7 linked regions of the Homo sapiens genome follow. The protein of the gene in region 1 interacts with the protein of each later gene in a pairwise test. Each region holds a gene or a part of one and is shown in the gene's direction. Other genes may lie near its edges. The genes, in order: GPR37, SLC41A3, CNTN1, HTR4, DRD2, GABBR1 and TMEM231.

Evidence for each region.
Region 2: the proteins of GPR37 (region 1) and SLC41A3 interact in a two-hybrid assay, tested with the Homo sapiens proteins (one large-scale study listed by BioGRID and IntAct).
Region 3: the proteins of GPR37 (region 1) and CNTN1 interact in a two-hybrid assay, tested with the Homo sapiens proteins (one large-scale study listed by BioGRID and IntAct).
Region 4: the proteins of GPR37 (region 1) and HTR4 interact in a two-hybrid assay, tested with the Homo sapiens proteins (one large-scale study listed by BioGRID and IntAct).
Region 5: the proteins of GPR37 (region 1) and DRD2 interact in a two-hybrid assay, tested with the Homo sapiens proteins (one large-scale study listed by BioGRID and IntAct).
Region 6: the proteins of GPR37 (region 1) and GABBR1 interact in a two-hybrid assay, tested with the Homo sapiens proteins (one large-scale study listed by BioGRID and IntAct).
Region 7: the proteins of GPR37 (region 1) and TMEM231 interact in a two-hybrid assay, tested with the Homo sapiens proteins (one large-scale study listed by BioGRID and IntAct).

Annotation. Positions count from the first base shown.
Region 1 is NC_000007.14:124,755,290-124,759,300, reverse strand, and holds part of GPR37 (prosaposin receptor GPR37 precursor), read left to right. Parts: intron 1-4,011.
Region 2 is NC_000003.12:126,014,171-126,018,181, reverse strand, and holds part of SLC41A3 (solute carrier family 41 member 3), read left to right. Parts: intron 1-1,306; coding exon 1,307-1,451; intron 1,452-2,608; coding exon 2,609-2,688; intron 2,689-4,011. UniProt on the Homo sapiens protein: Na(+)/Mg(2+) ion exchanger that acts as a predominant Mg(2+) efflux system at the mitochondrial inner membrane.
Region 3 is NC_000012.12:40,936,614-40,940,624, forward strand, and holds part of CNTN1 (contactin-1 isoform 1 precursor), read left to right. Parts: intron 1-167; coding exon 168-292; intron 293-956; coding exon 957-1,074; intron 1,075-2,721; coding exon 2,722-2,872; intron 2,873-4,011. UniProt on the Homo sapiens protein: Contactins mediate cell surface interactions during nervous system development.
Region 4 is NC_000005.10:148,504,300-148,508,310, reverse strand, and holds part of HTR4 (5-hydroxytryptamine receptor 4), read left to right. Parts: intron 1-4,011. UniProt on the Homo sapiens protein: G-protein coupled receptor for 5-hydroxytryptamine (serotonin), a biogenic hormone that functions as a neurotransmitter, a hormone and a mitogen.
Region 5 is NC_000011.10:113,419,397-113,423,407, reverse strand, and holds part of DRD2 (D(2) dopamine receptor), read left to right. Parts: intron 1-4,011. UniProt on the Homo sapiens protein: Dopamine receptor whose activity is mediated by G proteins which inhibit adenylyl cyclase. Positively regulates postnatal regression of retinal hyaloid vessels via suppression of VEGFR2/KDR activity, downstream of OPN5.
Region 6 is NC_000006.12:29,630,209-29,634,910, reverse strand, and holds the start of GABBR1 (gamma-aminobutyric acid type B receptor subunit 1 isoform a precursor), read left to right. Parts: upstream 1-1,727; 5' UTR 1,728-2,061; intron 2,062-2,128; exon of another isoform or gene 2,129-2,214; coding exon of another isoform or gene 2,215-2,229; intron 2,230-2,525; coding exon 2,526-2,610; intron 2,611-3,309; exon of another isoform or gene 3,310-3,311; coding exon 3,312-3,515; intron 3,516-3,521; exon of another isoform or gene 3,522-4,267; coding exon 4,268-4,453; intron 4,454-4,702.
Region 7 is NC_000016.10:75,539,144-75,543,154, reverse strand, and holds part of TMEM231 (transmembrane protein 231), read left to right. Parts: intron 1-471; coding exon 472-553; intron 554-1,699; coding exon 1,700-1,805; intron 1,806-2,980; coding exon 2,981-3,161; 3' UTR 3,162-4,011. UniProt on the Homo sapiens protein: Transmembrane component of the tectonic-like complex, a complex localized at the transition zone of primary cilia and acting as a barrier that prevents diffusion of transmembrane proteins between the cilia and plasma membranes.

The DNA of each region.
Region 1 (4,011 bases):
AAGCCCAGGAGTTCAAGATCAGCCTGGCCAACAGGGCGAAACTCCATCTTTACAAAAAATACAAAAATTAACGGGATGTGGTGGTGCATGCCTGTAGTCCCAACCATTCAGGAGGCTGGGGTAGGAGGATTTCTGGAGCCTTGGAGGTTGAAGCTGCAGTGATCCATGATCATGCCACTGCATTCCAGCCTAGGTGACAGAGTGGGACCCTGTCTCAAAAAAAAAAAAAAAAAATTCAAATAATTCAGACATCAAATATGGCAACTGGAATGAATCTTTGCTCATTATTTAATGGAAGTCAGAATCAAGGTATCATCTGACCGAGATCCCAGATAACAGATTAAGGTCTGTTTGGACATTAATTGGAGGTTTTGAATGATCGAGATTCTCTTTAGTTTAAAGAACCCACACCTTCATGGAGTGTTGTAGAACAGAAGGCTTCAAATAATTATAATGAGATAACCCCAGATCTAACTGTATTTTTATTTTACTGGGATAAAACTCCTGCACAGAGGTGGAGAGAGAATAAAGGGAACATGTCTTACCATGGCCTCTGGTCTGGGAATAATTTGTGACAAGTCTAGAATCTTTTCTAATGAGAGGAACCAGCTTCTCCAATGACTTTAGCAATACTGGTTTTAAGTTGAGTGGAACAAATGGCTCTTTCATTGCCTTAGATTGTAGCTAGCACTGACAAGAAAGAAAGGGTTTTTGGAGGTTGAAGATGACAGTGCCATACAACTATCTGAGTCTACACAGATTTCCCTAGAACGCCTGTATTCAAGTAATAGAACATTTATCATGGCATATGGTAAATTTTCTTTGAGAGGTGGATTAGTCATTAGGTATTCTGCCGGACTTTTAAGTGGAAACTTACTGTTTTATGAGCAATTTTAAAGTTACTAATAGTATTCTTAGGGAAAATGTGCTCAATATATGAGAATGGTGCTGAACAAATATTTTATGACTTCCCATTAATCTTTTAGTAATCATTTTATATATTCCCATGCAAATGAAAATATTTAGCTGATGACTCTAACAGGAAGAAAAGTGTTTCTTAGAGTGCACTTTTATTTATAACTCCATTTCTGAATGGTGTATGGTGAAGTTAACTGAATTTGGATCTTCCACAAGAAAGAAAAGTTTTATAATATTCAAATAAGAAATCCAAATAGTTTCCTTTTCCATTGATCATAATGAGAATGTGTCCTTTTCTAAAGCTTGTCAATGAAGTATAAATAGGAAAATTGATTTTTTAACTTCCCTTCTATAGATATTGTCTGGCATTCAGCTTTTAAGGATTATATATAAAACAGCAGCACCCAATAACTGATTAAAGAACAATTTGAATAATTTATTATTTTCTGTAATCCTTTTCCATAGGTGTCATCATTCGTTCATTTGTTCACCATTCATTGATTTATCAAATGTTTACCTGGCTTTTCTTCTATGCGAGGTACTATTAGGAGTGGGCAGGAGAAGGCAATACAGGAAGAGGGGGAAAAGTTTCCAAAGATGAATATCATAGATGAGCCACTGCCATTAAAATTACAGAAAAGTAAAGTAATGTTCTACACCATGATGAATATTATAATAGAGGTTTGAACAAAGCATCGTGGAAGCTCAGAAATGGCACTGAAATGGGTCAAGTCACAGTTGTGCTTGTTATGACCAGAGATGGAGAAATTAAAGGGAAAACTGTGCTCCCTCTAATTCTTTTCAGTTACATTCTTACTATTAATCTTCATAAATTTCATAAATGCCTATACAGCCTAGATCCATGATGAAAAGTTACAAATGTGAAAATCTTTTAATTCTTGCTTTTTTGTTTCCTTTAGCTTTCCCAGGATAGAAAGTCCATAATAATAATTGGCAAAATAATTCAGCAAATAGTTCAGTTCTAGAAATTTCTTTTAAAATATGGAATTTGTGCCAGTGCCTAGGATATCTATCTCTGCTTTACAATTAGTCCTTATTAGCTATAAGGACACTAAATACGTCAAAATTAAACATTTTATTTAAATGAATGGCTTATTTGGCAATGTAATAACAGTATATTAAATTGAGTCCTTTTCTTCTGAAAAAATCAAAACATATACAAATTGTTTAACTTGACCTTGGAGAACCTAAGAAAGAAGATGGACAAGGGCGATACTTTAGACTCCATTGTGGAGTCGAGGAAAGGGGAGCACGATGAATGGACTTTCTCAAGAATTGGATTAATCTCTCAAGCACATAATCAGAGTGAAGATTTATTCTGAGCTCCTGAGGGCTCCCAAGGTATCCTGCCATGTCAGCAAAGTATCCTTCCACAGAGACAAGGAGGCAAATGTGTCTGCAGAAGTAAAACAGATATGAGCTTATAAGTTTACCGAAGGCTGAGTGGGTGAGGGTCTACCTTTGCTTTCATATTTAGGCTGCATGGACCTTGATACAATTTTTACACCTTTAATGGCATTCGTCTTATGTGCGGCAACCTTTTAACAGTATCCCATTGGAAGCACATGGACCTGTGTCTGGGATGTAGATTGTGGGAGAGGGATGGGAAGGCAGCTATGCAGTGCAGTTTGTCTCTGCCTCTGCACTTCTGCTCCATCCTCCAGGGATGCGCCTGTCATTTCACTTCCCATGAATTGACCTGCCAAGGTCCAATAATGAACTCAACCTTGTTGCCAAGACTAACTCTTAAATATCCTAATTGGAATAATACTCTTTGTGCCAGAAGAGATGATCTCATCCAAAATTTCAGAGTGGAGTTGAGAATGGGATTACTGCAACGTCAAATATGGAGGGTCTTTTTTTATTTGCAGAGTAAGTGTAGGTACTTTTCATAAACTTCCATAAAACGCAGGATATGATCACTGTGTCAGTCTTGTTCTTGAGACAGAATACTTTCCATTTGTGAATTTGTAATAGTTTTCAGTGTTATCTGTCTGTACACTTGAATAGTTCATAGCATTCATTAATGAGGCCAAGGTCATTGATTTGATCCCTGCCTAGAATGAGACATTCTTATTAGGTCTGTGACTCTATTCAGGGATGTTACTTTTTTCTTTTTTTCTGTCAAAATAGCCCCTTCCTCATCAATTCCCATCTTCAGGGCCTATCTTTACTATTGTCTTCCTAATTCAAATCCTTTTTATATCGGAAAAGCATCTGATAAGCCAATTCGCATCAAGATATGCAATTTAGAAATAACTGCCTTTTATAAGAAGATTGAATCAAGAAAGAAATTTCCTTAACAGACTACCAATAGTGAAATTTTGGTTAAAAGCAGATAAATTCTGTCCTAAAATATGGTTTCTCAATTTTATTAAAATCATGATGACCTAACTATACATAATTTTGTTTTTAGTTTGAGTTCACAGTCATGCAAATCAATATCATTAGTCAGAAAGGGAAATAGGTAAAAATGTGTTACTGCTTTTTGGAAACTCATCAGAACCCCAAGGTAAGGAACTGAAATTCCAGGTCACTTTAAGATTGACTAGGAACATCATAATAATACCAAAGATTGAGAACTGGACTGTGGGCTTGGGGGAAATATTACATTTTGAAATGATTTTGTAATTACTGAGAATAAACATGGAATCTTTAGAATCTAACATAGATGGTTTATATCTTAAGACAAAATGTTGCTAATCTTGCTTCATTTACATTTTTATTTTAATAAACACCTGACAGATTGATAGGAATTATAACATGTTAGGTTGTAGTTAAATGAATTTTTTTAACCATATAAGGAATGTACTGTGCTATAGACATCATAATTGGTAACAAACCTTAATTCAAGATAGGACTATAAAGGAAAAGAGGATTTATGGAATCAAGACAAGTTTTGGGAGAATATGTTGATTTTTAAATAGTCTTAAACGGCTTTTAAAATAAGGAAAGCGTGGTATCAAGCTTAGGCAAAAGAAGAGAAGGTGGAGAATGAGGCAGTAAGGACAGTTGATAGTTGATGCTTTCAAAATATTTTTCCCCCACGGCATTGGGAATCACATGTAAATG
Region 2 (4,011 bases), on another chromosome or scaffold:
TGACCTTCTCTCTGTTGCACTCAGGAGTCACTGGGACTGGCCTGTATTAGATAAATCTTGACCCGCTGAGGTGTGAGCAGCTGACTGTAATACCTGCTGGGTGTAGTTGGGAATTGGCATTGCATATTGGGGAGGTGTGCTGGGGAAAGCATGAGGCAGGCCCTGGGGGTGCTTGTGAGTAGCTAACTGAAAACTCAGACTGGATTCAAAAGCATCGTATAAGGTGATGCTTCTGCAGGCCGCTGTTTCCCAGAGGGTGGGAGACCTGGTTAGAGGTGGCTGGGCCTGGCTTATATCTCCTGCAGAGGCCACGCCCTCCTACCATAAAGTACCTTGTCTGTAGCCAGTCTGGGGCACCTGAGGCAGAGGAATGGGCCATAACCCTTTAGTGCAGAGAAGGAAGGAGCGGATGTTCCTGATAACACCCCCAGAGAGGGAGTACATGGGACACAGACCCATGCCTGGGTACCCCTGAGTGTTGGGCCCCCTTGGCAGGTGAGCCTGCCCTCCAGAGGGTGGGGCTGAGGGTGAGACGACCACTCTAGAGAAAGCCAGTGTCTTGTTCTGTCACTTGTGGGGGACCCTCACACGGAGCACAACACAGAAAGGGAGGAATGAATGCACGAGATGCCCGAGTGTGTCAGGCTTGTCCTGGGCCCCCGCAGCAGTGACTGATCCAGCACCTGCCCAGTCTTCACTGGCCTCTCGCCAGTGGAGAAGATGAGATGGGGACACGAGTAGCTACCCGGCTGGTGACCCTTGGTTGCCTGGGACTGGCCTCAGCCAGGACCATGGGTGGCATCCCATAGCCGGCCCTGGCGTTCCATGGACCCAGGCCATAGCCCTGACGGGGCTGCTTGCTGTCTAGGCAGCCACCCTTTTTTGCACGTCTGCTTCCTCCTGCTGCCTGTCTAAGCAGGGGCTGTCGAGAAGGTGAGATGAGATTGTGCACCCGAAGTACTGAGCATAGTGCTGGCTCATGGTGCATTCCATACATTGTACTTCTATTTATTTATGACAGTAGCATCAGGGTGGGAGGAGGCAGAACAGGGTACTTTATATGGGGAAAATAGCAAGTTTGCCAGAGAAGTGGAGTTGAATGTGGCAGGAATGGAGGACAGAGAGGAGCTTTTCCAGTTACTTCTTGGGATGGTGAAAGTTCTGTGAAAAGTATGGCAAGGCAGTTCCCCCTCAACTGATGAGGACAGGAGCGTCCTCACCCACCTCTCATTTGTGAAACCCAGGCCCAGCCTGTGTGTGCTGGCCTTGGCCACATGAGCTGCGTGTGTCCCTGTTCTCCTTTCAGATAGTCGGTATCTGACGCCGCTGGTCTGCCTCAGCTTTGCGGCTCTGACCCCAGTGTGGGTCCTCATTGCCAAGCAGAGCCCACCCATCGTGAAGATCCTGAAGTTTGGCTGGTTCCCAATCATCCTGGCCATGGTCATCAGCAGGTGAGCAGGAGCCAGGGCCACGGCCCCTCTTCCTCCTCTCAGCCATGAAGGCCCCTAGAACCAGGGTGACACTCACTGCCTTGGGGGACAGGAATGGAGTGAAATGTAGCTGTGGGCTCTTTCAGTAACTCCCATTGCTGATTGAATCATACCTTTTTTCCTTTCTTCTCTCCCTTTCACTGAGAACCCTGGGCCTTGTTGGTTCTAAGAGAGGCTGCCCTGTTTACATTTGCCAGAGCACCAGGGACCCAGGAAGAGCCAAAGCTGGGGCCGGCACTGGAGTGCACTGGAGCCCCAAGGGAGACAGCGGCTTTCAGGCCATTGCCACTAGAGCTTTGCTGGCCCAGATCCCTGCTTAGGTGGCAGGTCCCCCACCTTGGCCTCAAGGCCACATCTGCTGACTCACTCGTCCTCCTGGTCACTGGCCACACATGGCTACTGGTGGGACCTAGACAGCTGTGGGGTTAGCGCCCTTCCAGAGCCTTAGAACCTTCAGCTGAGCCCAGGTCCACCACCCTCCAGCTCCCTCTCAAGGCTCATTTCCTGAGAGTTGACCTTGATGGGGGCCACCCCTGTCCATTCTGATGAGTTTTTCTAACTTTGAGTCTTGGGGAGAAGAGGCGATAGAGTAGGTATCCTTGCTTCCAGGAGGCTCCTGGGCTCCTTATACAGATTGACCTAGCTTCTCCAGGGCTCTAAGAAGTCCCAAGGGGTGGGAAAGCTTTTGCTAAACTACAGTGGCCAGTGGGAGCAAGGTCTGGCTGCAGCATTTTCTGAGAACATGGGGTGGGCATGAGGTGATCCTCCTGCAGGTTCTGTTTTCTGCTAAAGAGCATCTCAGTCGTGGTGCCGGAGTCTTGGGACAGCCCAGCCAGCTGTGTGCTTTTGAAAAGGCATTTGTTAGTTTTGCAATAAGTGGGTGTTCTCGGATGGCCTTCTGCAATGGTTGAGGCTCAAAGTGGAGATGGAAAAGCATGAGCAGGGTGCAAAGGATGCTGGGGAGACCAGTTTGGCCGCAGCAGATATTTTGTGTAGGGGAGAGGAGAGTGACAGCCAAGGATGGGAAGCTGGGCTGAAAGGGTGATTTGTGTGGAGAGTTGCAGGGCCACTGTAAGTGTAAACTCTGATAACTTGACTGCTGTCTGCTATTTCCCCAGTTTCGGAGGACTCATCTTGAGCAAAACCGTTTCTAAACAGCAGTACAAAGGCATGGCGATATTTACCCCCGTCATATGTGGTACGTATTTGAAGGGTTCCCATGTGGTCCCTGGGTTGGGTAGGCCCACAGGATTGGGTTGGACCGGAACAGCAGACCTCAGAGGGGCAGCACCAGCCCCGCACAGGCAGTTGGGCAGCTGAGCCGTGGACAGACTGCTGCCTTACAGGGATGCTGGAGCAGGTCTTCTCAGATGGAAGAAGCCTGGGGAGGAAGCCCCACACACTGTTCGCAGCAGCTCAGACCCGGCTCCTCACAGGCAGCCCTGGGACATAAGCTCTCCTGACAGGACCGAATTCCAGGCTTTGCAGGCACTGAGTCAAACTCCGGCCTCGATGGCACCTGCCAATTGAGCATGGCCTTCAGAACCGGGGCGCTGGCTCTTGTGGCTTTTCTTTTTCCTTTTTTGGATTCATTGCTGACATCAGAACTCAGATATTTACACTTAAAAATCTGGATTTCTTCTTCTTAAAAATTAAGACTGTAACAAATACCGGGTCTCTACCCTGGGCACTGCAGCAGTGCCTGAGACAGATCCAGGACTGTGCTTCCCAGCTGCCTTGATCTCCCCCTTCCCTGTTGTCTGACACCTGGCTCTCTGCACATACTTACCTCCTAGGCCTACACCCTGTGGGGTTTGTGTGGATGACCCCTCTTTTAACCAAAGCTTAGCTTGGTGTCTGGTGTCTGATAAGTTTCTGTAAATGGAAGTGATCAGTTAGGAGAAGAACAAAACATGTTTTGTCCAGTTTAGCCCCCAGGCCCTGGCCTGCAGGGACTGAAGAAACAGCCTTCAGAGGCTCCTAGGCAGCCCCTGCGTGTCCACAGTGTCCCTCCTCCCTTGCTCCCTTAGGGGACCATGTCTTTATTCCTTGCATGTCAGTGGGCCACCCAGCGTGTCCTCACCCCAACAGTGCCAAAGTGCCTTCACATTGTGCATGAGAACAGCAACAGAGGGCTTATTACGTTGGAGTGATTTTTTGGGATGAGTCACCAACTCGGATGCCTTCAGTGGCCAAACAATCTGCATGAATTATGCAGCTAGACAGTGAGAAATGGCAGGGGTAAGCTGCAGAATGCATTTCTCATATGAACAGTGTGGTGCCTGTCCAGCTCCAGCCAGTAGTTGCCTCGGGAGAGTGTAGGTCCAGACTTGCCAGTGCTGACTTGGGAAGAGAAGCTGGGAATCTGTATTAAGGGCCTAATTTGTAAACAGTACCAATTAATTTGAGGTTTTTTTTTCCTTTTTCTTTTTAAAATTATGTATGGGCCAAGCCGAATAGATCGCAGCAGTCCTCTGCCTGAAGACAATTGTTTGCATCCTCTAGAACAGCCTGTGTGGTT
Region 3 (4,011 bases), on another chromosome or scaffold:
GTAGGTTAAGCCTATGCAAAGACAAGGCCTATTACTGAGTTCAGGATGCATACACTATCTGATGTATTCTGCAGAATTAGGTTAACTAAATGTAATATTTATACTCTGGAGATTATGATGGATCTTGAGCCCTTCATTTAACATTTACAATGTTCCTTACTTTTTAGCATTCCCTGAGTGGGTAGAACACATCAATGACACAGAGGTGGACATAGGCAGTGATCTCTACTGGCCTTGTGTGGCCACAGGAAAGCCCATCCCTACAATCCGATGGTTGAAAAATGGATATGCGGTATGTATGTTCAAGTGCTTTGCTGTTCCTGAGTCCCTGTTCAAGCAGTGTTTCAGGGTAGTCCTGGGATAAATTTAGCAGGAGAGACAATACAGAAAGGGCACTTGGGCCCTGAAATATAAAAGCTTCCTAAAAAAGACAAAAACTGAACATAAAGTATCTTCTTTCAGTTTAAACAACTTTCTGTAATCTTACTCTACCTTCTCTCTCTCTCTCTCCTTATTTTTTTCCTTTGTTCCACTTTTCCACCCTCTTCCTACTCATCCATCTCCAATACCTGATATTGTCCTCTTTTTCTTGCCACTATTTTCCTGTACCCCACAGAGACAGAGGTAAGAGTGAAGCTCTAAGTCCTACCTTTGGCCCTGGGGACAAGTAGCAGCAGTGGGATTCTTCTCTACCTTCCCACTGTAATCTCCCAGCTGGTCCAAGAGGGGAAAAGGTGGACTCTCAGCTCTGTAGGATGAATAGAACAAGAGCCTTTGGGCATGGTAAGTGGGTTTTCCTTTCCCATGCCATGAAAATCCCACTCAGTTCATCTTAGGTAACAGTGGGGGCAGATGAACATAATGTATCTAAATGAAAAGACAACCAAACCCAGACCTAAGTGAAAGTATTTCTATTAAAGTTCATTGAGAATATGTTTCAATTTTATTCTTTTCAGTATCATAAAGGGGAATTAAGACTGTATGATGTGACTTTTGAAAATGCCGGAATGTATCAGTGCATAGCTGAAAACACATATGGAGCCATTTATGCAAATGCTGAGTTGAAGATCTTGGGTCAGTATCATTTCTAATTTCTGTTAAACATTGTTAAAGCAATATGTCATATCACACAAAATGTTTATTGAGCCTACACAAAATACCCAGTATTGTGTTAGGTGTACAACATATGTTGGTTGTTTACTGATTTATTTATTGCTAATTATCATAATTCAGACTAACGAAACAATGGAATAGAATGAATCTTTGCCACAACAAAAGTCTTCTTCAGAGCATCAGCAGCAGTGGCCATACCTAGGAGCACATTAGAAGTGCAGAATCCCAGGCTCACCCCAGACCTACTGAATGGACACTTTAAAAAGATACCCAGATGATTTTAATACAAAGATAATTTTGAGAATGACCAGACCAGAGGATGAAGAGTCAAAACCCAGATGAAGATATGCTTAGGCCTAGAAAAGCCTCCAGAAAGTACATAGTTACGGATGATTGTAATGTGTTGAAATATATGGATGAAATCTGCTTGGAGTCTGCCAAGGGAAGAGGAGAGTGAGCAGTGGATTAAATGTGTGGATGCTGAGGAAAGTCTGAGCATGACATCAATGAAGTAACCTTTTTTAAGCCTCTGTATTCTGTTCTAATAATTATTGCTCTGTACTTGGAGGTAATGATGAACTACAAATGATCATGTCTCCTTAATTAGTTGATTAGATCCATTATTCCCATAGCTGTTTATAGATAGATCCTGAAAGCAGGACTCCAATTATTTTGGCATTTTGCAGGGTGTTTGCATACAGATGATGCTCAGTAATTGTATAAAGAAGGAGAGACTGCATTGTTTAATGAAAAGTACATGCTTTGGAAACAGAAGGACCTAGATTCAAATGTGACTCCCACTTATTACTACCTGTGGTACCTTTGCCAAATTAAATAATCCTAATAGATTTCAATTTTCTCATTTATAAACTGGGAATAGTTCATTCAACATGTGGTTTAGAGGATTGACTAGGACCATATGTCAGTGTGTATAATGCTGGTCAATTTTTTCCAGCCTTTCACTTTACTTTCCTTGTGGAATTGAGTCAAAGCAACAGAATTCAGAGTTAATTTTAAGGTAAATGTGTATAAAACATTTGATTGAAATTGAAGTTATTTATTTATTGAGACAGGGTCTCACGGTGTTGCCCAGCCTGGAGTGCAGTGAGGCGATCACGCTTCACTGCAGCCTTGACCTTCTAGGTTCAGGTGATCCTCCACCTCAGCCTCCTGGATAGCTGGGACTACAGGCATGCACCAACATGCCCAGCTAATTTTTTTGTATTTTAGGTAGAGATGGAGTTTTGCCGTGTTACCCAGTCTGCTCTCAAACTCCTGGGTAAGCCATCTGCCCACCTCAGCCTCTGAAACTGCTGGGATTATAGGTGTGAGCCACCCATGCCTGGATTCTAATTAAAGTTTCTAATAATCAATTCAGTTATCATCAAGAATTGTACATTTGAATTGGGTGAATTTTATAAGTCAAAGTTATTAAATAAAAGTTACAAAGCATTAGGTATAGAATGCCTATTGGTGACAGCTGATCATATTTACCGAGATTAATCCTTTCCATTAACTATTAAGGAGAATAAAAGATTCTACAACACAGAAGCAATGTTTAGGCTTTACAAACAGAAAGAGAAAGATAACAATTTGTTTTCTTTTTAGCGTTGGCTCCAACTTTTGAAATGAATCCTATGAAGAAAAAGATCCTGGCTGCTAAAGGTGGAAGGGTGATAATTGAATGCAAACCTAAAGCTGCACCGAAACCAAAGTTTTCATGGAGTAAAGGGACAGAGTGGCTTGTCAATAGCAGCAGGTCAGTGCTGAAACTAGAAATCCAATTGCAAAATCTGTTTGAAAAAGTTTATTTTATAGAAGACTTGTTTATATGTTAATAATGAAAATGTTTTTTGCTCTGAATTTTTTTTTTCACAGAAGATCCTGTAGTTCTAAGATGGACAGAAATACCTATCCCTGTCAGTATCTATTATAATGAAGGTTTAATTAACAGGACTCTATAATGTATAAGGAATTTAGAAAATTGAAGCTCAGAGGTGTTTTTTTGTTGTCTTGTTGTTATAAATTGCCCAATGTCACACAGCTAATAAACAATGGGAAATAAAGTAGGATCTCTCTAACATATTTTTCCCCAGTATAGGCATCTGGCATCTATATCCATTCATATTCAACTGAATTTTGTGCAGTTAGCCTATTAAATATTTTTGTAGAAAAATAAAAAGGTGATTTCAAAGTGCAAATAATCTCTTCCTATCTCAAAATGAACAAGATGTTATCATCATCTTCCTTATAAATGGACCATCTACCAATGTTTTGGTGGTTTGGGGACAAAATGAAAAAGCAGTGTACAACTTATATAGATTATTTGTATAAAAGCCACACTGAATAGTTTATATGTATCCTAGAAGAAGTAATATTGAGTGCAAAAATTATGACGAGGAGAAAGCCAGGATGGGAAATGGGAGGGATGGGATGTGTGGGTTGGCTTGAGGGTGTATGTGAGGGTGTATGTGAGGGTGTATGTGAATGTGAGGGCAGCATGTACAAAGGCCCTATGGTGAGGAGTTTAGAATGTGTAAGAAATTGCAGAAACTGAAATCAGTGTGATTTGTCTTTAGAGGAAAATGGAGGAGACTTTTAAGAGATGAGACATAGTAAGCCACATCATAAATGACAAAGTTTTCTATGCTAAGGGGCTTGGGCTTCATCTAAGAGTAATATAAATCTGTTTAAAGTCTTAAACAAGGGAGGACAAGGATCACTTTTGTCATTTGAAAGACTGTTATTACTCAGATGTAGAAAATACATTATTTTCTTCACAGTAACCCAATAAAGTAACATGGGAATTATCATCCATATTTTGATGTGTCTAAAGCTTGGTAAAGTTAAAGTGACCTTCTGCAAAAATATATTCATGCTATCTAAACTAGAACTTGA
Region 4 (4,011 bases), on another chromosome or scaffold:
AAACAGGATTGCCAGTGACATTTTTTTCTTTGCCCTGAGATGCGCAGGAATTTCTAAGGAGTAGTTCCTTCTTTGAAACAAGCATTTAATTTTTCTGATGATGATTAGTATTCAGCTGTTCTGGCGGCTGAAAATTGGGGGATATTTTCATTTGCATGTGTAAGAAAAGAAGAAAAGAAAAATAAGAATTGCTATAAAATATAAATCCTGTGCCTCAGAGGCTGCTCAGAGCATGAATTCCATTTTTTGCTACAAGTGTAGGCAGATTTGTAGCTAAAGCCTAGCATGGTGTTGTGGTTTCAGCTGGTGGAAAGACCCCAAAGGATACTCCTAGAAACCGACATTCTCTCTTAATTATTATGCCTTCAGGAGTGTCATAGAAAGAATTCAACCATAAAGTGTGTGTACAAGAACTTCTGTGTGGGTGCCAAATAGTTTTTAGCTATTTAATCTAGCAGTTGCCTAAGTACAGGCTGTTGACAACTTACAAACAGCGTATGCTCTGGTAATACATTTGCTAAGTCAGTTGTTTAGCAGTTGATGGTTTTTTTCATAGAGAGTTTGGGAGTTTCCAGGGCAGCCCAAGAAAGCCTATTTTACTAAATAAGATGTATTGTTAAAATCCTGCTGCGTCTGGTAATCTGCAGGATCATTGTAAAGCAAAGAGACAATTTAGAGATGGCATATGGATGTACACTCCATATTTTCTTCCATAAATTTCTTTTTTTTTTTTGAAGAAACTTATATGGTATGAGTACAATTACCATTTTATTTTATTTATTTTTTTATTATACTTTAAGTTCTAGGGTACATGTCCACAACGTGCAGGTTTCTTACATATGTATACATGTGCCATGTTGGTGTGCTGCACCCATTAACTCGTCATTTACATTAGGTATATCTCCTAATGTTATCCCTCCCCCCTCCCCCCACCCCACGACAGGCCCCAGAGTGTGATGTTCCCCTTCCTGTGTCCAAATGTTCTTATTGTTCAATTCCCACCTATGAGAGAGAATATGCGGCGTTTGGTTTTTTCTCCTTGCGATAGTTTGCTGAGAATGATGGTTTCCAGCTTCATCCATGTCCCTACAAAGGACGTGAACTCATCCTTTTTTATGGCTGCATAGTATTCCATGGTGCATATGTGCCACATTTTCTTAATCCTGTCTATCATTGATGGACATTTGGGTTGGTTCCAAGTGTTTGCTATTGTGAATAGTGCCGCAATAAACATACGTGTGCATGTGTCTTTATAGCAGCATGATTTATAGTCCTTTGGGTATATACCCAGTAACAGGATGGCTGGGTCAAATGGTATTTCTAGTTCTAGATCCTTGAGGAATCGCCACACTGTCTTCCACAATAGTTGAACTAGTTTACAGTCCCACCAACAGTGTAAAAGTGTTCCTATTTCTCCACATCCTCTCCAGCACCTGTTGTTTCCTGACTTTTTAATGATTGCCATTCTAACTGGTGTGAGATGGTATCTCATTGTGGTTTTGATTTGCATTTCTCTGACGGCCAGTGATGATGAGCATTTTTTCATGTGCCTGTTTGCTGCATAAATGTCTTCTTTTGAGAAGTGTCTGTTCATATCCTTCACCCACTTGTTGATGGGGTTGTTTGTTTTTTTCTTGTAAATTTGTTTGAGTTCTTTGTAGATTCTGGATATTAGCCCTTTGTCAGATGGGTAGATTGCAAAAATTTTCTCCCATTCTGTAGGTTGCCTGTTCACTCTGATGGTAGTTTCTTTTGCTGTGCAGAAGCTCTTTAGTTTAATTAGATCCCATTTGTCAATTTTAGCTTCTGTTGCCGTTGTTTTTGGTGTTTTAGACATGTAGTCCTTGCCCATTCCTATGTCCCGAATGGTATTGCCCAGGTTTTCTTCTAGGGTTTTTATGGTTTTAGGTCTGACATTTAAGTCTTTAATCCATCTTGAATTAATTTTTTATAAGGTGTAAGAAAGGGATCCAGTTTCAGCTTTCTACCTATGGCTAGCCAGTTTTCCCAGCACCATTTATTATATAGGGAATCCTTTCCGCATTTCTTGTTTTTGTCAGGTTTGTCAAAGATCAGATGGTTGTAGATGTGTGGTATTATTTCTGAGGGCTCTGTTGTATTCCATTAGTCTATATCTCTGTTTTAGTCCCAGTACCATGCTGTTTTGCTGACTGTAGCCTTGTAGTATAGTTTGAAGTCAGGTAGCATGATGCCTCCAGCTTTGTTCTTTTGGCTTAGGGTTGACTTGGCAATGCGGGCTCTTTTTTGGTTCCATATGAATTTTAAAGTAGTTTTTTCCAATTCTCTGGAGAAAGTCATTGGTAGCTTGATGGGGATGGCATTGAATTTATAAATTACCTTGGGCAGTATGGCCATTTTCGCGATATTGATTCTTCCTATCCATGAGCATGGAATGTCCTTCCATTTGTTTGTGTCCTCTTTTATTTCGTTGAGCAGTGGTTTGTAGTTCTCCTTGAAGAGGTCCTTCACATCCCTTGTGAGTTGGATTCCTAGGTATTTTATTCTCTTTGAAGCAATTGTGATTGGGAGTTCACTCATGATTTGGCCCTCTGTTTGTCTGTTATTGGTGTATAAGAATGCTTGTGATTTTTGCACATTGATTTTGTATCCTGAGACTTTGCTGAAGTTGCCTATCAGCTTAAGGAGATTTTGGGCTGAGACGATGGGGTTTTCTAAATATACAGTCATGTCATCTGCAAACAGGGACAATTTGACTTCCTCTTTTCCTAATTGAATACCCTTTATTTCTTTCTCCTGCCTGATTGCCCTGGCCAGAACTTCCAACACTATGTTGAATAGGAGTGGTGAGAGAGGGCATTCCTGTCTTGTGCCAGTTTTCAAAGGGAATGCTTCCAGTTTTTGCCCATTCAGTGTGATATTGGCTGTGGGTTTGTCATAAATAGCTCTTATTATTTTGATATATGTCCCATCAATACCTAACTTATTGAGAGTTTTTACCATGAAGGGCTGTTGAATTTTGTCAAAGGCCTTTTCTGCATCTATTGAGATAATCATGTGGTTTTTGTCTTTGGTTCTGTTTATATGCTGGATTACGTTTATTGATTTGCATATGTTGAACCAGCCTTGCATCCCAGGGATGAAGCCCACTTGATTATGGTGGATAAGCTTTTTGATGTGCTGCTGGATTTGGTTTGCCAGTATTTTATTGAGGATTTTTGCATCAGTGTTCATCAGGGATATTGGAATGGTACCAGCTCCTCCTTGTACCTCTGGTAGAATTCGACTGTGAATCCATCTGATCCTGGATTTTTTTGGTTGGTAGGCTATTAATTACTGCCTCAATTTCAGAACCTGTTATTGGTCTATCCAGGGATTCAACTTCTTCCTGGTTTAGTCTTGGGAGGGTGTATGTGTCCAGGAATTTATCCATTTCTTGTAGGTTTTCTAGTTTATTTGCGTAGAGGTGTTTATAGTATTCTCTGATGGTAGTTTGTATTTCTGTGGGATCGGTAGTGATATCCCCTTAATCATTTTTTATTGCGTCTATTTGATTCTTCTCTCTTTTCTTCTTTATTAGTCTTGCTAGCGGTCTATCAATTTTGTTGATCTTTTCAAAAAACCAGCTCCTGGATTCATTGATTTTTTGAAGGGTTTTTTGTGTCTCTATTTCCTTCAGTTCTGCTCTGATCTTAGTTATTTCTTGCCTTCTGCTAGCTTTTGAATGTGTTTGCTCTTGCTGCTCTAGTTCTTTTAATTGTGATGTTAGGGTGTCAATTTTAGATCTTTCCTGCTTTCTCTTGTGGGCATTTAGTGCTATAAATTTCCCTCTACACACTGCTTTAAATGTGTCCCAGAGATTCTGGTATGTCATGTCTTTGTTCTCACTGGTTTCAAAGAATATCTTTATTTCTGCCTTCATTTCGTTATGTACCCAGTAGTCATTCAGGAGCAGGTTGTTCTGTTTCCATGCAGTTGAGCAGTTTTGAGTGGGTTTCTTAATCCTGAGTTCTAGTTTGATTGCACTGTGGT
Region 5 (4,011 bases), on another chromosome or scaffold:
GATACTTGGGAGGCTGAGGCAGGAGAATTGCTTGAATCTGGGAGGCAGAGGTTGCAGTGAGCTGAGATCATACCATTGCACTCCAGCCTGGGCGACAGAGCAAGACTCTGTCTCAAAAAAAAAATAAAATTAAATTAAAACAAAAACAAAATAGGAAATAGAAGCTTTGGAGAAGTTGCCTTTCTTCACCCAGGTCACAGGGAGAAATGCTGATGGAGAAATCCCAAAGCAGATATTATTCTCCAGGAAGACACCTTCAGAGCCAGCGAGCAGATGTGGGAGCATTTAGGGATCATCGGTGGGCACAAGCTGGATCCTGCCCCTTTCTCTGCCCAGCTTTCTAGGATGGCATGTCCAGGACTCAAGCAATCTGGGAGTCTAGGTGCATGGGAAGGCATGGGATCAGGCATTTAGGAAAGTGCCGGTGCTCTGCCCACTGAACCGTTACCTTCCTTCCCTGAGCAGGAGAGGAATTGACCAGTGCCTCTGAGGCCATCCCTGCCTGAGAGGGAAGGGGTTGTTGAAAGAAAATGAGAAAGCTTTGTAGGTTTAAACAGGGGAGAAATCTAGATGAGGACGCTCAGGTGAGGAGGCGAGACTGGTGGAAAGTGGCACACCTCCCTGTCCCTGGGCCCCCAAGGGGCTCGTGCGCTTACTGTTCTCACCACCACCCCGGGCCCAAGGGAGCTCTGATCCATCACCCCTTGGCTTCCTTTACTACAGCCAATGCAGGCTGCAACTTCCAAAATGACCTGACTGGATATTAAGGAAGAACCAAAAGGAAACACAAATACAAAACCACATAAAAATATTCAGTTGACACAGGCCAGGAGTCCAATTCCCCCTGGATCCATGTTTATGAGGGCCCCTAGACTCTGTCCATGCCTTCTTAATTCTTACGCTTGATCCCCTCCTTCTTCCCTCTTCCAAAGGAGGGTCCTAGGTCTCAGACCATAGGGAAAAATGGTAGAGCAAACAAACTCTCTGTGCCTCAGTTTCCTCATCTGGAAAATGCAGATAATAATAGTATCATACATCATAGCATTGTTGAGGATCGAATTAGTTGATGTATGAAAAGTGATTAGAATGATACATGGCTCACAGTGAGCACTGTGTAAATGTCAGCCATGGCGATGATGATAAAGATGAAGATGACAATAGACATCCAGCACTGCTCCACATAGGGAGGACTCTGTCTTTCCTATTCACCGCCCCCTTGGGATAAAGAGGAAGGAGAGAGTACTCCCTATGTTCGCCCCAGGCAAGTAGGTACCCTCTTCCCAGAGGAACGTGTGTTCTACCCAGGGCTCTGGGCATGGCTTCTGTTAGCTTCCAGACCCCCTGTCCCTACCCAGGCACTTGGGTAGGGACAAATCCATACATGGGCTATAGGGGGTTCCCAGGAATCTGTAAGTCTTTCGAACAGATCCTTTAAACATGCTTGTTCACCTTATTTTAAAGGTGAAGCTGAGTGTGTCAGGGGAGGAGGGTGCAGAAGCCATTCTCAGAGGGCAGGGCTCAGACTTCCCCACAGCATCTCATCAAACTAGAGCTGGGCACTGAGCCTTGTTTAATGGACATTATCTCAGCGATTTGTTGTCCCTAGAGAACGTCCCAGGTGACGTCTCACCCTGCCCTGATGTCCTATCAGCGCACCCTCACAACCACGCACTGTCCCCTCTCTAATACATGCTCTTGTCATCCAGATTTTTTCCTCCTGTTCCATTTCCAGCAATGCCATGCCAACATCTGTCTGGCTTAGGACTAAGTGTGCGTTATTTATCTTGCTAAGTGTATGAAAAGCACGCTGGTTTTGGAGTGAGAGGACCAGGTTCAATTCCCAGCTCCATTCCTTTCCATCTAGATGCTATTGGAAGAGTTCCTGATGTCCACATGTGCCATTCCATGTCAGCCTCACAACCCTTTAAGGAGCGGCTTCCTGTGTGCATTTATTTTCTAGATGAGGAGATTGAGAAGATGAACAAATATCTCAGAGTTATTCATTCACTCAGTCAGCACTGACTGAGCACTCCGAGGTCTTACCCCAATCCTTGTGCAATGGGCTAAGGCACTGACCTGCTGGGGATGCAGAGGTTGACAGGGCCCCTACAGTGCAGTCTGCTGCCGGTGACAGTGGAGCAGTCCCCATAGGAGGTGTGGGGCATAAGGCCCAGCATGAGGGTGTCAGGGAAGACTTTCAGGGAGAAATGATGCTTTCGGAAAAATTATGCAGGAGAGGGAGGGAGACACTTGCATTCTCAAGAAAGCCACCCAGCAGGGAGAGGGAGTAGCTGGCTGGAGGTATGGAGGAGAGGTGGTTATGTCATTTGCCTCTGAGGCTTACTGTCTGCATTCTAAGATATAAGCATCAAGTGTTTGGAACAGTGCCTGACACATGGTAAGTCCTTAGTATTATTACAGTTATTAGGACTTAGCTGAGCCAGCTCAGGGCCTGTACTGCAGGTCTCAGCTTTATGTGAGCAAGAGCATTAAGGAATGATGCCTGGATGCCTGGGGGTGTGAAGAAAAGAGCCTTGGGTTCGACTAGGGAACCTGGGGCCACTCCTTCCTCTGCTACTAAATCACCAAGTGATCTTGTTCTGTTTTCTTCTCTGACCCTCCCTAGTTTTGTCCACCCTTGAAATAATCATCTTTCCTTTTCACATTTCATGCTTACCAAGTACTTGTCACCTAATTATCTCCTCTCTTGATAAGCTAGATGGTCCCTTCCAGGGCAGCTTAGTAGAGAGCATGGGATGTGATGTTTCAGATTCCAGCTCTGCTGCACACCTGCCAGGTGAACTTGGCCACGTTACATGGCCTCTCTGGGCTTCAGTTCCCTCACCTATGAGTGGGATAAGCAAGCCCTTCTTGTAAAAGTTTTAAGAACGATACATGAGATAAAGTGCAATGCCCACAGTAGATGTCTTATGGACAGTGGCCACCAATGCATTTTCTTGAGTCTTTAAGTTAGCAGCCCTAACTACTCTCCAAGGCAGCTTCCCCTGGGACCACAGAGGAAATCTCTTTGTTATTCTGGGCTCCAGATAGGCCAGTGCAAGGAGAGATTTAAGATGTCCATGAAGGCAGGACTGTGTCTGAATTGCTCACAACTGTGTCCAGGAGCCTAGGATAGAGGCTGGAACACAGTAATTTGCTCAATAAGTGTTTGTAGGAAAGAAGGGATGGCAGAAAGGAGGGAAGGAGAGGAGGAAGACAGGGAGGAAGGCCCTGATATCTCAACCTAGATCCCCAGTGGCTCCCAAGTACTGGTCCCAGGAGGGGCTTCAAAGTGGGATGTAAATCAGGTAGTGCTGGTTTTCTGCCCAGTGGTACCCTAAAGGCACACTCTGTTTATGCCAGGAAAGCCCTTTACGTACCCTCCTGCCTCCACCCGCAAAATGGGCATCCAGCTGTTAGCTCCTGCCAAACTGGTCAGCGCAGCAGCACAGGGAGCTGGGAGAGAGGCCCTGGTACGGGGCCCCCATGTGAGCTCCCAGGAAGACAGTGCCGCATGAGAGGCTTGCTGTGTTCTGGGGCAAGCTGCTGTTTCTGCCACACAGGATGACAGCAGCTGCATTGCCCATCATTGAGCTTAAATGCCAGCATTTGGTTGGATGCCTAGGAGCAGAAGAGAGGGCAGTGATCAGAATGAGCAAGGTTATAATTAGCCCTGCTGCCAAGCTACACGGTGACACGAAGTCTGCCCTACTCCGGGTTGCGGGAGGGGGCTTTCACGCTCCTCTCTGCTCCTATTGGTAGAAGCCAAAGGTGCATCTCCCTGTCCTGACTCCATCCTCAGGGAACTGGGGCTGCTCCAAGCTTCCAGAGCGCTAGGGACAGCTGCCGTGAGTGTGTGCCTGCGTAATCTGCCATGAGTGTGTGCCTGTGTGTGAATGGGTGTTACGTGGGGAGGGGGGAGGGCGGTGCGTTCATGTGTGTGTGTGTGTGTGTGTGTGTGCCTGTGTGCATGTGTGTATGAGAAACGTGCTCCTGCCAGGAGCTAGACTC
Region 6 (4,702 bases), on another chromosome or scaffold:
GAATGCAATTATAGTTGTGTGTAAAATTAGGGAAAATTAACTTTGCTACCAAGAGTTGTTCAACATTTTGTTAAATCACTTCATTGATGGCAACATGCTGGAGGTAGTTGAGTCACCAACTCAGCACCTGGATCAGCCTGTGTTGGTAGCAGTTTCATCCCCGTGGTTCTGTGAATAGGTGGAAGCATCTGCTTACTCCATCAGGACTTCTAGGGTAGTCGGGCCTTGGCACTCACACATTAAAATACTGTTTATGTTATTTTATTGCAAGTTACTTTTCTTTCATTTCCCCTTTACGTTACAGAAAGGGAAGCATTTTGCTTTCTGTTTAAAGTTGTGTATGTAGGTAGGTTATATCATCTATGACTTTCTCTCCCTCCTTCCCTTTCTTTTTGTTTGAGATGGAGTCTTGCTCTGTCACCCAGGCTGGAGTGCAGTGGTGCGATCTTGGCTCACTGCAACCTCTGCCTCCCGGGTTCAAGCGATTCTGGTGTCTCAGCTGGGATTACAGGCGCACACCATCACACCACGCTAATTTTTCTATTTTTAGTAGAGATGGGGTTTCGCCATGCTGGCCAGGCCAGGCTGGTCTCAAACTCCTGAGCTCAAGTGATCAGTCCGCCTCGGCCTCCCAAAGTTCTGGGATTTCAGGCGTGAGCCTCATCTATGAATCTCAATTTAGGACAGTAAAAGTGTCATTACAAAATATTTATTGTAAAAAAGGGTTGGAGGTTGAGAATCTCAATTCTAGTCAGTCTCTCAGTGTTTGGTTTCTTCCTACCATTTTTCCCCCTAGGACCAGCCAGAAAGCAGCTTTTTTTTTGTCCCCCCCAACAAGGAGCCCACTGTTTCCTCTCCCAGCCCAAACTCAGGCCTACGAACAACAACAGCACAACACACACACACACACACACACACACACACACACACACACACACACACACCCCTCCACTTCAAGGTATAGCCAAGAGCTTCTGGAGCCGTCAAAAAGGTCTGTACCTGCTGTCTTTAGAGCTTCCAGTTTGCCCTTGGTCAAGAAATACTGTTTGCTAGGCTCTGCTGGAGTACATCAGGTAATACTGGCTTCTAAACCACCCTGAGGTTCTTTTCTCTTGTCCTTTTACTCCCTTCGTACTTCAATTTCTCTCCTTGATGTCCCCCTCCCTGTTTTGTTTTTTGCCTCCAATCCGTTCTGCGCGTTCCCTGCAGAGCAGGCGAGTAGCAATGCTGCTGGACCATGGAGCTGCTCTAGTCTCCCAGAAATCTCTTCTACACCCAACCCTTCTTGCGCTTAGGTGGTCCTCAGTCCCCCTCCCCCACCTCCTTCTGACCCAGGCTTCTTTCTCGCCCTCCGGTCGCAGTTCTCCTGGGCATCTGCCTCTGCCTCTCTCCTCTCACCCGGATCTAGGGCTGCCTTCTCTTTGTGCAGCCGTCTTTCTCCACCTTCATCCCAGACTCCCTGTCTCAGCGCCAGCTCCTCTGCCTTTGGCTCGGGTTCCCTCTCCCCCACCCCAGCTTCCAGTTGTTTGGCCCGCAGGTCCCTCGGCAGTGACCGGCGCCCCCCGACGAGTGCGTGTGCACCAGGGCACCTCCCTCTCCCCCACCTCTCAGCCCCGCGCCTCTCCACCGCCCGCCCCACCGCGCTGTGGGCGGTCCAGGGCGGGGCTGGGATCCGGGGCGGCTCCCGGGGCTCGGGTTGTGGGAGGCGCCCTCTCCCCGGTCTTCCCCTCTCTTCCCCCCGCCCTGCCTTCCCTTGCACCCTCCTTCTTCCCTCCGCCCGGGAGCTCTCCCTGGTCCCCGGCGCCGCCTCCTTCCCTCCCGGCTCCCCGCTCCCCGCTCCCGTGGCTGCCGCCGCCCCGGGGAAGAAGAGACAGGGGTGGGGTTTGGGGGAAGCGAGAGAGGAGGGGAGAGACCCTGGCCAGGCTGGAGCCTGGATTCGAGGGGAGGAGGGACGGGAGGAGGAGAAAGGTGGAGGAGAAGGGAGGGGGGAGCGGGGAGGAGCGGCCGGGCCTGGGGCCTTGAGGCCCGGGGAGAGCCGGGGAGCCGGGCCCGCGCGCCGAGGTAAGAGCCAGGGCCCCGGGTTAGCAGGGCTCGGAGAGGGGGCGCGCGGCGTGGTGGGGGAGGGGGCAGTGGGCGCAGGGCCCAGCTGGGGGAAGCGGGGCTGGGGGAGAGGAGGAACCGCGGGGATGGAATCGGGGAGCGCTGAGGCGGCCGATGCCGGGAGCGTGGGTAAGCCAGGCTTCTGCGAGCCGCGGGGGCCGGGGGAGAGGAGGTGGTGAGAGGTGGAGTCCCGGGAGGGTTGGGGGCCGAGGGAGGCAGGAGGAGGGTGGGGACAGGCTTTCTCTCCTCCTCTCCCCCCACCCCGCGCGGGGCTCCGCCCCCGCCTCCTCCGCGGGGCGCTCTCTTGGTCCCCAGGCTGAGCCCGGTCGGAGCCTGCGAGGCAACCGGCAAGAGGTCGAGTAGTCTCCGGGTGCGGGCCGCGCCGGCGGGGCTCGGTCCAGTCCTCATGGCCGCCTCTCACTTAGATGTTGCTGCTGCTGCTACTGGCGCCACTCTTCCTCCGCCCCCCGGGCGCGGGCGGGGCGCAGACCCCCAACGCCACCTCAGAAGGTGCATCCTTCTTCGACGACCTCCGGCCCTCCTTCGCTCCACTTCCCTTTCCCTGCATCTCCTCATTTCTGGTCCTCATCACTATCCCATCAGTCCCACATATCATCCCGGTCTGGCAACCCCTTCTGCTCGGCCCGACTTTACTACTGCTGACCTCCTTCTGTCACCCCACGTTACTATCCAGCACCTCTTTTCTCTGCCCACATTGCTACACTATACCACCTTCCTGTGCATTTTCTCCGCCTCAATCCCCTTTCCCAGCCCCACATTACTACCTCAATTACTCCCTTTTCTTGGTCCCACTTTGCTGTCCAGATGATCTTATTAGCCTCCCTTTATCCTCCTATCCTAATTCAACTCGAATATCCTCATTTAGCCTTTTTTTTTAAAGAAAAGCTCCACCCACATATCATACCCTTCATGATTTCTTAATTACTTTTCTTTCTTACCTCCACCCAGCACCCTTCCCTCCCCACTTGTGGGTTCTCTCATCAGCTTTAACCCTGGCCCTTTACTCTCTGTCCTTTAGCCAGGGGATCTGTACCTGTCCCCACTCCCACCCTCTAGTGCCCCATCCCTCTTCCTCTGTCCCCAGCCTGCCCACAGACCACGCCCTACTCTCCCCTTCCTCCCACTGGGGAGCCTGCCTTTTCCTCTTTCCCACCATTCCTCTCTGTATGCCTCCCCGACTCACCCCTTAGGTTGCCAGATCATACACCCGCCCTGGGAAGGGGGCATCAGGTACCGGGGCCTGACTCGGGACCAGGTGAAGGCTATCAACTTCCTGCCAGTGGACTATGAGATTGAGTATGTGTGCCGGGGGGAGCGCGAGGTGGTGGGGCCCAAGGTCCGCAAGTGCCTGGCCAACGGCTCCTGGACAGATATGGACACACCCAGCCGCTGTGGTGAGTAGCCTCGGAAGCCCCTCCCCTCTTCAAGACTATTCCTTTTCCTGCCGCAAACTTAGCATTACTGCTTGCAAGTCAGCACTTTAAATCCAGTATACCAAAATTCACAAATACATTTATTGAATGACTACTACATAAGAGCAATTTTGCTCTGTGCGGTTGGAGGTAGTAGAGCTAGCAGCCTGCACAGTTCATTTCATCCTCCCTTCATTAGGCCACTGATCATTGGCCTATAACATTGATAATTCATCTTGTCAGTTATTCTCTTTGAGGATCATTAGTGGCAGATGATGACAAAAAAATTCTAAAATGATTTCATCACATTTTTGAATACCTCTGTCACCAACCCAGAGACCATATGCCCAAGAAACAAAAGCCAGTTTAATATTAATAGAAGCCAACTATAATAAGAAAAGCAAATCTGATTGTGCATCCAAAGTTATATACATCTACATATTTCAAAGCCAGAGAACCGCCCACTGTAGCTGACTTTGAAGAGATCCCATTTTGTGTGCTTATAGCCCCATCTTGGGTTCCTAAAATGGTAATTTTTTTTTTCTTTTGGGAATGTGTGGATGCTTGCACAGGTAAGGGAGGATTGGAAGATAGGTAGGCAAATCCTTTTCACATGTGATTTTCTTTAGAGCAGGATGCTTGTGGACCCAAACCTGCACCTGAGTCCCCTGCTCTTTAAAGGGAAAGAGCCTTCTTCAACTCGCCTCTCTTCTTATTTTCCTATCTCTCCACAGTCCGAATCTGCTCCAAGTCTTATTTGACCCTGGAAAATGGGAAGGTTTTCCTGACGGGTGGGGACCTCCCAGCTCTGGACGGAGCCCGGGTGGATTTCCGGTGTGACCCCGACTTCCATCTGGTGGGCAGCTCCCGGAGCATCTGTAGTCAGGGCCAGTGGAGCACCCCCAAGCCCCACTGCCAGGGTGAGGGGAACAGCTGCCTGCATGCAGCTGATGAGGACGCTTGTGTGAGGATGGGAGTGGGGTGGGAATGGATAATGGGAAAGAATGGAGAGCTATAAAAATGTGGGGGAGGACACTGGAAAGGGGAGATGAAAGTCCCTTTTTCCTCCATCACCTGCCTCAAACTTCCTCTTGCAGTCCCCGGTATCCTCTGTAGGTTGGGGGCTTCCTTCCTTTACCTTTTAAAAAAATCTTCCTGCTCCCGATTCT
Region 7 (4,011 bases), on another chromosome or scaffold:
GCCTCAGCCTCCCAAGTCACTGGGATTGTAGGCATGAGCCACCACACCTGGCGAAAATACGGTCTGTTAAAATAATTTAAGGAATTCTTTCTCCCGCTGAGATAAAGAGGGGTATTTTAAAAATAGCTTTAAAACCTGTAAAACATGGACACTGACCCCTTATTTCCATCCACAGAAAGAAAGACTGAGAGTAAATGGGCTTAAATTGTTGCAAGAGAGTTTATTCATCTTTGAAGAGAAGATTATTGATACTGCAGTAGGCCACCAAGAACAAGAGGGTGCTCTGTGGGACCAGCCTGGGTGGGCAGCAGCCTGTTTTATTCATCTTTGAAGAAAAGATTATTGATACTGCAGTAGGCCACCAAGAACAAGAGGGTGCTCTGTGGGACCAGCCTGGGTGGGCAGAAGGGTAGAAGGAAAAGGGGAGGAGTCTCCCAGGTGCTCACACCACATCCTCCTCCCGTGTCCCAGATATCCGTGATCAACGGGACCAGCCCCTTTGCCTATGACTACGACCTCACCCATATTGTTGCTGCCTACCAGGAGAGGAACGGTGAGTCACAGGTAGAGCCCATTCAGCCGCTGCTCAGGACTTTCAAGGTTAGTGGGGGCAACAGAGACAAGCAGAACTGGAACCCTTGTGATGAAAATGTCAAAACCCGTGAATGCTCAACGATGGGAGCAAATATGCTGTCCAGGATTTGTCTTTTTCGTCCTGATCTTCAGACCTGGGACCGCCCCCACCCCTCCAGCATCCCATGGTCCAGCAGGCTAGTGATGGTTAAATGCCATCATTATCCCACCACTGGCTTAGTGGGTTTCTCTTTTAAAAAATATAAGCCTAATTGAGTTGTTCCCCATACCACACCTATCCACACCTATAACAGATGCCAAAGACAAATTGCTGTTCATGCTTTTCAGAGAAAAACAGAGAACGTGGGTGACTCTCCCCACATTAGCAGTCCAGCAGGAGAACAGGAGTGCCCCTGTTTCCTGCCAGAAGGCACAGTGTGCTTATTCCTTACAGAGCTCTAGGCCATGGCATGTGTGGACTCGGCACGTTTGTCTGGTCGGTGGCTGAGGTTTTCTCTAAAAGCATCTACAGTGTTACTTGGCAAGCAGACATCATGGAGACTATACACAGACGTCTCACAAGGGGGATGACTGCAAATCCAGTATTGCTTACTGATTTTATGGCATATACTAGTGGCATTATTGCAATAATAGAGGGAATTTTAAAACAAAAGTAGAAAACATTGCCCTACAAATCAACTATTTTTTCATTCCTTTCATTCTTTAGCCTTCTGCAGATCTTTTTATACAGCCATTGTAGTGTAGAAACACATTGGGATCCAAGTTACTTTTATTTATTTAAACTTGGAATATAAATACTTCCCCACACAGCTACAAAGCTGTGATACTACTTTTAGTGGCAGTATAGTATTCCTTCAGTTAGCCATTCAGCACATGTAGAAGAAACTCTTTCCAAGTTTTTTATGTATTTTAACAAAAGTATTTTGACTATTATTTTAACAAATAATGTGTGATCAGCTTTGCACATGCAATTTCTCTTTCCTTCCGAATGATTTCTTTCAGTTCTGAAGCACAGGATAATTTCCAGGTATCAAATAATCTTTATAGCCTTCAACTGCCAGAGTCAAACAGCCATCGTGGTTAATGGTTAATGATTGCATTGCAGTTACCACCGTCCTGAATGATCCCAACCCCATCTGGCTGGTGGGCAGGGCCGCAGATGCTCCATTTGTGATTAATGCTATCATCCGATACCCTGTGGAAGTCATTTCATATCCTTTCTGTTAAAGAGTCCATGTTAAGGCTGGATGTGGTGGCTCCTGCCTATAATTTCAGCACTTTGGGAGGCCAAGGTGGGAGGATCATTTGAACCCAGGAGTTCACAACCAGCCTGGCCAAGATAGTGAGTCCCTGTCTCTACCAAAAAAAAAAAAAAAAAAATTAGCCAGGCATAGTGGCGTACATGTGTAGTCCCAGTTACTTGGGATGCCGAGGCAGGAGGATTGCTTGAGTCCAGGAATTCAAGCTTGCAGTGAGCGATGATTGTGCCACTGTACTCCAGCCTCGGTGACAGAGTGAGACCCTGCCTCTTAAAGCAAACAACAATTTAAAAAAAATCAATGGTAGCTCAGTTTTCAAAGAGGAATGATTCCTTAGTTGTCTCAAGTAGTAACAGACGTGGGAGGTTTTCTCTTGGAAATCATGACAGGGTTATAGCCTCATAAAAATGGCTGCGTCTTTGACATCTTAGGCTACATGTCTCAGAAAATGACTGTATGTCTGCTATTCATATAGGAACAAATAATTCATGTCTTGGTCCTATTTGTTTCCAAGCAATTCTTCTAGGTAAGAATCATCCATATTTATGTCTTAATAATCATATGATATCCCTTTTATGCTAAGGTTATGTGAAACATTCTTGCCAGTCCCTGTCTGACCTAAACTTTGGTTTAATTTTGACTTAGGTCGACTAATGGAAAATGAAACCAACACCAACACTGCAGAGAAGCAAACAAAAGAGAAGGCATTTTAACTGGGGTCTTAGGAATTACAATTCCAGAGACACAAACCTAGGAAGCAGCTAAATTGTGTTCCGTACAGGTGCAATTAGGCAGGGGCTAAGGGTGTTCCAAGTTTACACAACTGGAAGATTTTAGAAGATGGATGGATGGCTGGTTAACAGCTCAGGATATCTCTAGTCCATGATCAATCTAGTTTGGCATAGTTGTCTGTTTAGGAGGTTGGTCATCAGGCTTGGTATATAAATAGCTCAAATCAAATGTGGCTGGTTTTACCATTTGGCCAAGTTCAGGTCAGCTTCCATCTGGGTGTGTACATGACAGAGGTCCTGCCTCCTTTCGAGATACCTCTGCCACAGCCAATTCCATCTTGGATTTTCTCTTCATACTTAACACCATGTGGCCCTTCACTCCTTAACTGTCCATACTTATCAGCCAGGATTCTGGGAGATGGTAAAGTTCGCCTGGGTGCAGTATGTCAGCATCCTGCTTATCTTCCTCTGGGTGTTTGAAAGAATCAAGATCTTCGTGTTTCAGAATCAGGTGGTGACCACCATTCCTGTGACAGTGACGCCCCGGGGAGACTTGTGTAAGGAGCACTTATCCTAGAAAGGCCATTTCTGAAGACTCAGCAGGACCGTGGCTGCCTCATTGTCATCTTCTGGGAACATCTTAGGACCTTTTGAAAGAGCCCAGCGGACACCTGCGGGCTTGTGTGCTTTTCCCTCAGAGACAACGGTTCTTTCCGGTTTTGCTCTACACAGTTCCGTATCTTCAGAGCTCCTGCAGAATTGTCAGGGACTAGTTTGTGGAAAGGTCTGAGAGTTCCTGGAGGCTATAATTAGCTTTTTGGGTTTTCCTTCTTTGCCTTAGCGTTGAATTTCAGGAGAAAATTGCAGTCAGTTCAGACATCTTGGAAAGAGTCCCATCTCTGGTCAAGCAGAGACTTTTCCTCTGTTGAACTGAGGAACACACTGTGCATTTCTACCTTCTGTTGTGAGCCACTCTTACTCTTTTCAGGGCTCTCTTGTGACAAACATGCCAATCACTAGCACTTTGCACCCCTGGGCTTCTCCATTTCCCATTCACAGCTTTGATTTCCAGAGCTGAGGCCTTTAACTGGAGACCTGGAGGGGCAGGGCCCAAGGGCAAGGGCCGCATTAGCACAGGCAATCAGGGAGGGCCGCTGAAGGACACTTGGACCGTCCACCTGCCCCAGCCCAACAGTCAGTCATCTGTCATCAGCTCAGCTGAGCAGCCCTGGATCTTTGCCGTACTGTGACTGGGCTCTTTGCCCTATTTTTCCCTCTGTCTGTGCCCCTGGATGGCAGGCTGAAGTCAGAGGGGCTGTTTCATTCTCAGCCCCCTCAGCAGCACTGGGGGAAGAAAGCATTGTCACAACAGGTTCTTTCTGGCCCTCACCCAACAGCCTGGGCACTTGGCCCTCCTCCTCCTTGAC